Linked DNA regions of Homo sapiens: all the other regions are linked to region 1. The links come from fine-mapping of genetic effects on gene expression. A gene starts in region 1. Each other region holds a variant in brackets. All regions are shown on one strand. Distances are from middle to middle.

Region 1 (2,689 bases):
AATTAAAGTACATTTGCCGAGAGATACTAAAGACAGCAAAACTTCTATTTAAAATTTTAAACACGAAGAAGAAATAAAGTCCCATTAGGAGTGTCTCTTCTATTATTGAAGGAAATTTAAAAAGATTCCTACTACAGAAATGGCTTTAAGAAAAGCAATAGGAAAGGTTATAAATTTGAAATATTCATAACTGTTCTAAAAAATACTTCATAATGATTGCTCTTTGTGCAAGAAATGTATCAAAGAGCCAGAGACCTCATCATCTAATTTCTTACTTTTTCTTAATTAACATTGTTCCCAGACCTCTGCTAAACTCCCGTGTTGAAAGGAAAAAAGTAAATACAGTACAGCAGGGAAAACTGGTTCCTTTCGACAAAACTGAGAGAGAGGCTTGAGCTTTTGTCAAACAGAAAGCACTTGATAAAAAACTATTCCTAAACTATTAGCAACTATATAGAAGCTTTTTATTTAACAGCATCCTCCTGGGAAACTGCGCTGGAATGTGCAGCGGTTCTGAAAAAGGCACAGATTTGGCTGAACTGTAAATATTAGGTGCACAGAGGCGAAGCCATTGTGTAGGGAGGGGTGGGGCAGGTAGGGTCCTGATTTCCAATGTTGATAGAAGGATTCCAATTTCGTTTGGTATTTATTTTTTTCTACTACAATTACAGTTTTGCTGAGAAAAATAAAATATTGGTTGTGCTTCCATCTGGGTTTCTAATTTTCAGTGTGTACAGACAAGAGAAGACCTCTCATTTACCCAAAAGAATCACCTTTCTGCAATCTCCAGTGCTACTGGACAAACAAACGAGCCCAACCCCACCGCCCACACCTCCCAAGCACCCGGCTCGCCGATCCCGCCTGCTTCAGGTAGCTGGGGTTTGCCCGGTACGCCAGCGGCCCTGAGACGATGTGTGCCCGCAGCACGATCGTGTCTGTTGGCATTTCTGGGTGTGGATGCTCCAAACCAATAAACCACAATACAGAACCCAAGCTTGGACTTTGAACCGAGCCCTTTTGCCTAGTTTGCTTTTTCCTCATCAAGCCAGGATCCTTGCCAACCCACCTCACAGCTTCTGCCCGGGCTGTGGCTCCCCTCCAGCCACCTGCGCGTGTTCGGGATAGAAGCGCGGTCAGGAGGGGAGCTCAGTCCACCAGCCACTCCAGGGAGAGACGGAAACTACAAATCCCATCAAGCCCCGCAGCCGGCTCCCTCCTCCTCCCTCTCCTTCCCCTTCAGCCTGCGGCCGGGCGGCGCTGGGCTTTTATCTGCGGACCCGCCGGGAGGGAGCCAGATCCCAGCGATCTTCCCCGACGGCAGCGCTTTACCCAGAGGCTGCCGGCGGCTCGTAGCTGGGTTCAGCTCTGCGTCCACGCCAGCCCGGAGCCCGGGGGGCAAGGGGTCTGTCCCGGGCGCAGCGAGAGGATGGTCATCCGCGTGTTCATCGCCTCTTCCTCGGGCTTCGTGGCGGTGAGCGCGGTGGGGGCGGGCAGTAGGTTGGGGTCGCGGGGCGCGGGTCCTGCGGGAGGCGCGCGGCGCTCGTCACTGCGCGTCCTTGCGCTCAGCCGGTCCGCCCGCGGGAGCCCGCGCCCGGCAGGTGATCCATCACACTCCGACAACAATGAAGAGGGCGGGGAGGAAAGGTGGGTGGGGGACCCCGGCCTCACCCAAATGCCCACCCTGCGTGGCCTGAAAGGCAGACAACGCGGCCTGAAAATGGAGTCCGAGGGAAGCCCCCAGCTCCTGTTGTGTGGCATGGAAATTTGGGGAACGGGTTGTTCAAGAGCTTCGGGGATCCCCCTTCCCCTAGTTTAGTTCTTCCCGATTTGGGACCTTCAGACTGGTTATGTTTTGCACGGGAGCCTTTTCTGCTGCTTTGGTTTGTTACCCTAGCTCCTGAATGAAGCAAGTTTAAGTGGGAATTGCTCTCTGTCCTCCCTTCCCCGCCAGCAAGTGCATTTGTTTAGTTTTATACCTGCGCAAAGAGAATAGTAAAACTAGGTTTGTCCTGTTGTGGTAGGATTGTTTGCTTTCACTGTCATTTTTTTTCTTAGGGTGCCATAAATATTTTTACATCTTTATGTAAATGTGTGTGTATGCACGCATTTTCTTTCCACCTGTAATGCTGTGGAAATTTTATCCTGGGGATCTATGAATTGTGGTTTTCTATTTAATTATTTTTAGCTATTCTCTTTGGTGGATGTTCTTGAATTTTTTTAGAGAAAAAAAATTTTTTTAAAGAAAGGAAAGTTAAATAGCTAGAGATGTCAGAATTTAAGGAAAATTCAGTAGTTAGTATATTTGACAGCCCACTAAGGGACATAGCACATGTGTTTTACATGATTATTGAGACTTGGTTTCCTTAACCAAGAGTTCAGCTATAGATTTAAGAGCCTCCTTTGTGACATATATAATCAAGTAACATCAAAAAGTGCATTGTAGATTGCTTAAATTTGGTCTGGTCAATTGTCTGCCCAGTAGCTCAGTCAGATTGTTCCAAAATTTGTTTCTTAAGTGGGTGGAGTGGAGGATGGAATAAAATATTGTTTGAAAATCCTTGTACACCACTGAAGTTTTTTATTTAAAAAGAAACCAACACGATCATACAAAGCCCCTCCACCCCCATTTGCACTAGAAACAATAGATGGGAAAATCCAACTTACACTTATGTGCAGTCATGTTGGGGTC
Region 2 (2,689 bases), 72 kb after region 1:
TGGGGTCCTTACTTGTATTCTTTTATCAGCTGATTTTGAAACATATAATAATGATTTTCTTGTTCCCTTCTTTAACTAGCTGCCTTTAGATTTTGATAATCACAGTCTTAAAATACTAGGAAAGAAGTGGATGGGAATTGTAGGCATAGATTTCATATCAAGGGCATTTCAAGACAGAATTTTTATTTCCTGTAGTAGGCTTGCTGGAGCAAAGGAAATGTGCTGCTAAAAATCAACTTATGCCATTTTAAAATTAGATAAAATATGGAGTGCCATCCTGCTAGGTGAGTACAGACCAGAAGAAAATTTAGTTGGGAAAATACTTGTTTTTCCAAATTCCGGTGTTTTATTACAATCAAAGAAGAGGAAAGCAAGGTATTTTTTCACCTCAGATTCTAATATATTCTAGATTTGTTTCTGTTTTATAGATTTAATTCAATACCTCCACATAGATGTTTTTATATTACATGAATTTAATAATAAACTAAACTTTTTTTTGTCTCCCGTTATTGAAAAGTACCAAAGCTTCTTTCTGTTGTGTTTGATTTTACTATAGGGGTTTTGCTTTTTCTAGAGATACTTTTCATTTAACAGCTTTTGTTAAGTGTCAGGCTGCACTTTGCTCCATATAATTATTGTTTTCAGATTTCAACTTGTATGTGTTTGTCTCTTAAAGCATTGGTGAAATCACATATTTTATATTCAGCATAAAGGAGAATAAATTCCAGAAAACACATATTCTGAAAATGGAGTGTTTGTTCCCTGCCATTTTTCACACCTCTCTTAATTTTAGTTCTGTTTAGTTGAGAGGCTGTGATTTTACTCTTGCCTGTGAACCTCATGCATGAAAGCAGCACATTAAATTGTAAAAATACAAACAGATCGTGTGATCATTCAAGGAGCCAGACATGAGGTCCTGCACGAGGGTGTTGGGAGGACACCACAGATTCATCTCAGACAGTGATCAGGACTGAGGATGGAGTTAAATCACTCAGCCCCTGGGTGG[G/A]GTGGGGTGGTTCAAATGGATGACTGATCTCCTGAGTACACTGAAGCCACAGGCTGGTGGCCATGTTCTCTGAATTGGGTGCAGAAGACAAGGGCAGAGTGGCTGCGGCCCCTATTACCTTTGTAGCAGCCACATCAGAAAGCAGAAGAAAACAGTATTTCTGAAGGCATTGTTTGAGGTTGATCTCAGCACTGAACGATTTCAAGCCCTACGCACCAGAACAGAAGGAGGGTGGAGGAAGTGATCAGAGGGAACGAGCTGTAGGTTTGCAGAAATGTGTGAAACCAAAATGATCACTGCCTACTTGTGATTCAAATCTTCAGAGTTTTCCTAGTTCTTCTAGAAATACATGTCAGGTTTGTTTGTTCATCCTTTCTGTCAGCATGGATCAAGCCCCTAAAATGTGGTAAGTGTTGTCAGAGCAGGGCAATATCTCTACTCTCAAGTATGAGGGGAATAGAAACAAAGCAGCAGTTTTAGCCAGGGTTCAATGATAGAGTGGAGGTAAATTAAGAGCCTCCAGGCTGTGATTCACCATTTGAGACATTATACATAATTTGTTTTTGTTATAAGCCATTTGAATTTTTAAAAAATTTCATACATGCAATGGAATATAGATATGTATATACACATATAATATATATGCTAAAGTATAAAGAGTAATAATAATGACAATAAACAAACCCCTGTGTGCCTACCACCCACCTTATTGCCTTTCCTTTGAGGTACCGTGTGCGGTTTCCTGAACCTATCTCTATCCCTGTCTGATAGAGGGAACCCCTGTACTGAACTTTGTGTTGACCATAGCCTTCTTGTCTTTCATCACTTTATCTCCATGTATGTATCCTTAAAGAATAATAAATGGAATTAAACTGAATGTATTCTTCTGTCACCTCCTTTTTATGTTCATTGCCATCGGAGTTTTTTCACTGCTAAATATTATTCCATTATGAATATATCACATGTTCTCTTCTCCAGCTGGTGCTTATTGAACTGCATCTTTGTTTGAAATAGAAAAAGGTAATGTTGCTCTGAATATTCTTTTATGTGACTTCTGGTGTACATACTGAAGAATGGATGTATACCTTGAATAGAATTGCTGGTTTATACAATAAAAGCACATCATCAGTTTTAATAGATAAGGCCAAATTGCTTTCCAGAGTACTAATTTATGCTCCCCACCAGTATACTAGAATTTGCAGGACTCTAAATCTTTGCCAATGTTTGAGATTGTCAGAGTTGCATTTTTGCCAAGCTGGGGAGTATAAAATGTTACCTCATTGTGGTTTCATTTTGTAAATTTTTGATTATTAGTAAGTTGAACATGTTTTATTATGGGAATTCTTGTTTCTTTTTCTTGGCAATCCCTCTTCATGTCTTTTGCCTTTCTTCCTATTGAGTTGTGTTTTAATGATTAATTTTTAAAGTTTCTTTATATTTAATATTTAATTGGTCGACATTTATTTAATCATTAAAGTGAAGAGAAACCAGATTTAGAGTAGAAAACTTTTCTGAGGCCATTTCCAGAAATATGCTAAGCATGTGAATCTTTATTCTATTTGGAGAAAATAAAGTTAAATACATATATATATTTTTTTCTTGTGTGCTATTTTTTACCTTGTCAGCATATCAGCCAACAGTTGACTTCGGGAGCTCCTCTGGGCTCTAGAAGGGTGTCTTCTT
Region 3 (2,689 bases), 33 kb before region 1:
AGGAATTCGAGATCAGCCTGGCCAACATGGCAAAACCCCATCTTTACCAAAAATACAAAAATTAGCCAAGTGTGGTGGCAGGCACCTGTAATCCCAGCCTCTCAAAAAGCTGAGGCACAAGAATCGCTTGAACCAGGTAGGTGGAGGTTGCAATGAGCCAAGATCGCACCACTGCAATCCAGCCTGGGCACAGAGCAAGACTCTGTCAACAAAAAAAAAGAAGAAAGAAGAAGAAGAGGAAGAGGAAAGAAAGAGAGAGAGAGAAAGAAAGAGAGAAAGAGAGAGAAAAGAAAGAAAGAGAAAAGAAAAGAAAAGAAAAAAGAAAAGAAAGAGGAAGGATGGAAGGAAGGGAGGAAGGGAAGGGAAGGAAGGAGGAAGGAAGGAAGGAAGGAAAAGAAAGACATATAGATCAGTGGGATAGAATTGAGAGTCCAGAAATAAGTCCTCACATTTAGGGTCAATTGATTTTCAACAAGTGTGCTAAGATAATTCAACGAGAAAAAAATAGTCTTTTCAAGAAATGGTGCTGAGACAACTGGAGATCCACATGCAGAAGAATGAAGTTGGACTCATACCTAACACTATATACAAAATTTAAGTCAAAATAAATCTAACCTGAGAGCTGAAATTATAAAATTCTAGAAAGAAAACATAAGCAAAAATCTTCATGACTTTGAACATGGCAATGATTTCTTAGATATGACACCAAAAAGACAAGCACCAGAAGAGAAGAGATAAATTGGACATCCTCGAAATTTAAAACTTTTGTCTTTCAAAGAATACCATCAAGAAAGTGAAAAGACAACCCACCAAATGGCAGAAAATGTTTGTGAATTCTATATCTGATGAGACGTGTATGTAAGACATATTACAAACTCTTACTATTTGACAATAAAGAGACAACCCAATTTAAAAGTGGGCAAAGGATCTGAATGGGCATATTTCCAAAGAAGAAGTACAAATGGCCCATAATCACATGAAAGGATACTCAACATCACTAGCCACAATGGAAATGTAAATCAAAACCAAATTGAGCCATCACTTCACATGGAATTACTATAATCAAAAGACAGATAAATTGGTGAAGATATGGAGAAAGTGAAGCCCTCATACAACACTGGTGGGTATATGAAATGGTGCAGCGACTTTGGAAAATAGTCTAGCAGTTCCTCAAGAGGTTAAAC[A/G]TAGAGTCACGACATGACTCAGCAATTCCACTCCTAAGTGTATAGCCAGAAGGAATAAAAATATATATCCACACAAAAATATGTACATGAACGTTCATGGCAACATTATTCATTATAGCTAAAAGTAGAAACAATCTATGTGTTGTATTTCTTTATAACATTCAAATGATGAATGGATAAATAAAATGAGGCATATCCGTACAATGGAAGATTATTCAGCAGTAAAGAAGAAGGAAGTACTGGTATGCACTAAAACATGAATAAACCTTAAAAACTTTATGGTAAGTTGAAGGAGCCAGTCACAAACAACCACATATTGTATGATTCCAGCTATAGGAAATGTCCACAGTAAGTAATCTATAGAGACATAAAGTCATCAGGGCAGAGGAACTTGAGGGGGACTGAGAAATAACTGCTAATGGGTACAGGGTTGCTCTTGGGGGTGATGAAAATATTCTAAAATTGTTTGTGATGGTTGCACAGCCTGCATAAACTAAAAGCCATTGAACTGTATACTTTAAATGAGTGAATTGTAAGGTAGACGAATTATATCTTAATGAAGTTATAAAAAATAAAAAATAAAAAGTGCTCAACCTCGGCTGGGCGCGGTGGCTCATGCGTGTAATCCCAGCACTTTGGGAGGCCGAGGTGGGCGGATCACCTGAGGTCGGGAGTTCAAGACCAGCCTGACCAACATGGAGAAACCCTGTCTCTACTAAAATACAAAATTAGCCGGGTGTGGTGGCACATGCCTGTAATTGCAGCTACTAGGGAGGCTGAGGCAGGAGAATCGCTTGAACCTGGGAGGCAGAGGTTGCAGTGAGCCAAGATTGCGCCATTGCACTCCAGCCTGGGCAACAAGAGCAAAACTCTGTCTCAAAAAAAAAAAAAAAAGTGCTCAACCTCATTCAATACCAGATGGATGCAAATTAAAAACAATGTTATAGTATTTTACTGTAGGCAGGTGGGAACAATTAAAATTTTGGAAAATACTAAGTGTTAGCATGATCACAGAACAATGAGAACTCTCATCCACTTCTTAGGGAAGTGCAAATTTGGATCGCCACTATGGAAAATACTTTAGCAACAACTTGTATACTCTATGACCCAGCAAATACCCTTTCTTGCACTAAACATGAAGAGACATGTAATAATATTTATAACAGATCTTTTTTTTTTTTTTTTGAAATGGAATCTCACTCTCGTCACCCAGGCTGGAGTGCAATGGTGCAATATCAGCTCACTGCAACCTCCGCCTCCTGGGTCAAGCAATTCTACTGCCTCAGCCTCCCCAGTAGCTGGGATTACAGGTGCCTGCTGCCATGCCCGGCTAATTTTTGCATTTTTAGTAGAGATGTGGTTTCACCATGTTGGCCAGGCTGGTCTCAAACTCCTGGCCTCAGGTGATCCACCCTATACCAGCTCTTTTAATTACAGCAAAACACTGAGTACAACCCAAACGTCTGTCAGCTGTGGAACGGATTCAATTGGCTAGGACGGGGCAG
Region 4 (2,689 bases), 43 kb before region 1:
CTCTGGAATCATAGGGTGGCCTGGAAGCCTCAAAAGGAAATTCTCCCTTGTGGTCAGAGGGAGGAACTGCTGTCTTCCATCACCCTTCTTCACACTGCAAATATGACTTGGAATAGAGTCCATGCAAAAATAGTTTTATGCTTCTGAATGGGTGCAGGACAAAAAAGGTGTTGTGTGGGCCAATAGTGTCTATAACTGCAAGTTCTACCAGTTCTCAAACTATAGAATGTTTCAGAAATGCCAGGGAGCGGATTAAAAATGTTACTTTAATCTGACTCAGTTCTGGGGGGTAATCCAAAAAACACGTTTTTATCTAGACCCCCAGGTGGTCCTGACATAGGTGGCTGAATGAACTCCCCCCAGTGTGTTGTCATTGTACTTTCTACCTGTCTTTAACATTTTCCTACATATTCAACTGTATTATGATTAAAGTAATCTCTTCCCAACTTTGAGTTTATCTGGCAGAAAATTATAAAATCAGAACTTTTTTCCTCTATATTTTTCCAAAACTTGGAGAATTTTTAGTATAAAAGGAGTTATTCATTTGAGAATATTTAGAAAAAAAGATAATGCAGAAATAGGAAGTAGGGGTGTCTAGCCACCACAGAGAACCTAAGGATGTGAAGTAACTGTGGACCTTAGAATGACAGTCCTGAAGCTGTTACTCCAGTGGACATTGAGTTCTGGTATCCCCAAGAACCTACGTCCAGAGACTAAAAAGCCTAATCATGAGGCTGCAAGGGTCAGTGAAGACAGAAAGTATAAAATGAGCATGGGACAAGGAAAAATGATATGTTTTTAATGCATATGTTAATTTCAACAAAGTAGAACAATTTACCCTGCCAAAATTTTGGAGGAAGGAAATTCTAGAATTTGCTGATAAATATGTGTTAATAAAAGGGTATTTGTTGTATTATATATTACCATTGTAGGGCAGGAAAGACTTTCTTCTACCCTCTTAAGTTCTATGGCTGGTCTGATAATTAAACTGACAAAAGATAAATTAACAAGAGAAAAGCATACACATTTTACTTGATGTCAATATTTTTATGTATATATAGAGGCCTTTGTATATCAGAAATGAAGACCTAAAGAAGCAGATAGGTCTGAGAGCCTATATGCAATTTTAACAAAGAATGATAAATTTTTGAGTTGCAATAAGACAAAGAAAAAAGAAGTTTGGGTTGAGTGTGGTGGCTCATGCCTGTAATCCCAGCACTTTGGGAGGCTGAGGCGGGCGGATCACCTGAGGTCAGGAGTTTGAGACAAGCCTGGCCAACATGGCGAAACCCCGTCTACTGGCCGGGTGCGGTGGCTCATGGCTGTAATCCCAGCACTTTGGGAGGCTGAGACAGGTGGATCACGAGGTCAGGAGATTGAGACCATTCTGGCTAACATGGTGAAACCCCATCTCTACTAAAAATACAAAAAATTAGCTGGGCATGGTGGCACGTGTCTGTAGTCCCAGCTACTCGGGAGGCTGAGGCAGGAGAATCACTTCAACCCAGGAGGCAGAGGTTGCAGTGAGCCGATTGTGCCACTGCACTCCAGCCTGGGTGACAGAACAAGACTCTGTC[T/TAA]AAAAAAAAAAAAAAAAAACTGGGCTAGAGCAGTAAATCATGGGAAAGCAACTAGGAAATATAGGGGGAAACTAATGGAAGAGAAGGGTTATTTTAGTAAGTTGGTATGGATTCATCTTGCTGTTAACTCCCCATCTCAGGTGATAAAAATGTTCTGCTCTTCCTGGGACAGGAAAGGCACTTTTATTCTGGGAAATGTATGCCCTGCTTTGAAGTAGAAGCGGGAAGGTCAGAGAGCCCTTCCTGCATCTGCTGCTTCTCAATTGCCTTCAGCTCAAAATAACTAATATACCAAAGTGGCATAATTGGAGGTGGCATGTTCTGATCCCCTTAACCATTTATTAATTATTTGAAGTGTATAAAAGTATCAATCATATGTCATTATTTAATGAAGAAAAGAACAAATGCTTTGCTTCCACATAGGTATTATTAACAACAATTAATAAAGTGACTGTATCATAAATAAAGAAAAGATTATGACATTGAACCTGAGCACTTCCCAGGAGTATATCTGGGATAGAACCAGGATCAGAATTTGGCAGCTGAAGCAATTGGGTATTAATTCTTATGTCCAAAGTCATATAGCCATTGTGCCCAGGGCTGATTAGCTGCTCACAGGATTCAGAAATGTTTGAGAATTTAAAAAGAATTATAGTTATCTCTCAGTATCTCTAGGGGGTTGGTTCCAAGACCCCCTGCAGATACCAAAATCCAAGGATATTCAAGTTCCTTATATAAAATGATGTAGCATTTTCATATAACCTATACTTTAAATCATCTCTAGATTACTTAAAATATCTAATACAGTGTAAATGCTATGCAGATAGTTGTTTTACTCTATTGTTTAGGGAATAATGACAAGAAAAAAGGTCTGTACATGTTCAGTACAGGTGAAATTATCCTATATATATATATATATTTTTTTTTTTTGATTCATGGTTGGTTGAACCTGTGGATGTGAAATCTGTGGTTATGAGAGGCCAACTATAATTGATTCCAAAACAGAAAGAGAAACTATAAAAGATAAACTAATGAATGATTATTTAATGGTTACAAAATATAAAATTACACTGATTTTATTAATTTACTATTAATAAAATTTCATTCCATTT

The links. PIP is the estimated chance that this variant, and not a neighbour inherited with it, causes the effect.
Region 2: its variant is fine-mapped to the expression of SH3BGRL2 in amygdala (GTEx, PIP 0.91).
Region 3: its variant is fine-mapped to the expression of SH3BGRL2 in whole blood (INTERVAL, PIP 0.98).
Region 4: its variant is fine-mapped to the expression of SH3BGRL2 in whole blood (INTERVAL, PIP above 0.99).

Annotation. Positions count from the first base shown.
Region 1 is chr6:79,630,036-79,632,724 of GRCh38, forward strand. It overlaps SH3BGRL2 (SH3 domain binding glutamate rich protein like 2), which reads left to right and starts at 1,294. Exons shown (of 4, transcript NM_031469.4): 1 at 1,294-1,471. The coding sequence starts at 1,427.
Region 2 is chr6:79,701,773-79,704,461 of GRCh38, forward strand. SH3BGRL2 (SH3 domain binding glutamate rich protein like 2) reads left to right here. Exons shown (of 4, transcript NM_031469.4): 4 at 1-1,883. Among named protein-coding and RNA genes, the nearest start is that of SH3BGRL2, 72 kb to the left of the region's middle. The variant G/A (reference allele first, on the strand shown) is at 1,007.
Region 3 is chr6:79,597,020-79,599,708 of GRCh38, forward strand. It overlaps a transcript of SH3BGRL2 not described here. Among named protein-coding and RNA genes, the nearest start is that of SH3BGRL2, 33 kb to the right of the region's middle. The variant A/G (reference allele first, on the strand shown) is at 1,185.
Region 4 is chr6:79,586,712-79,589,400 of GRCh38, forward strand. It overlaps a transcript of SH3BGRL2 not described here. Among named protein-coding and RNA genes, the nearest start is that of SH3BGRL2, 43 kb to the right of the region's middle. The variant T/TAA (reference allele first, on the strand shown) is at 1,578.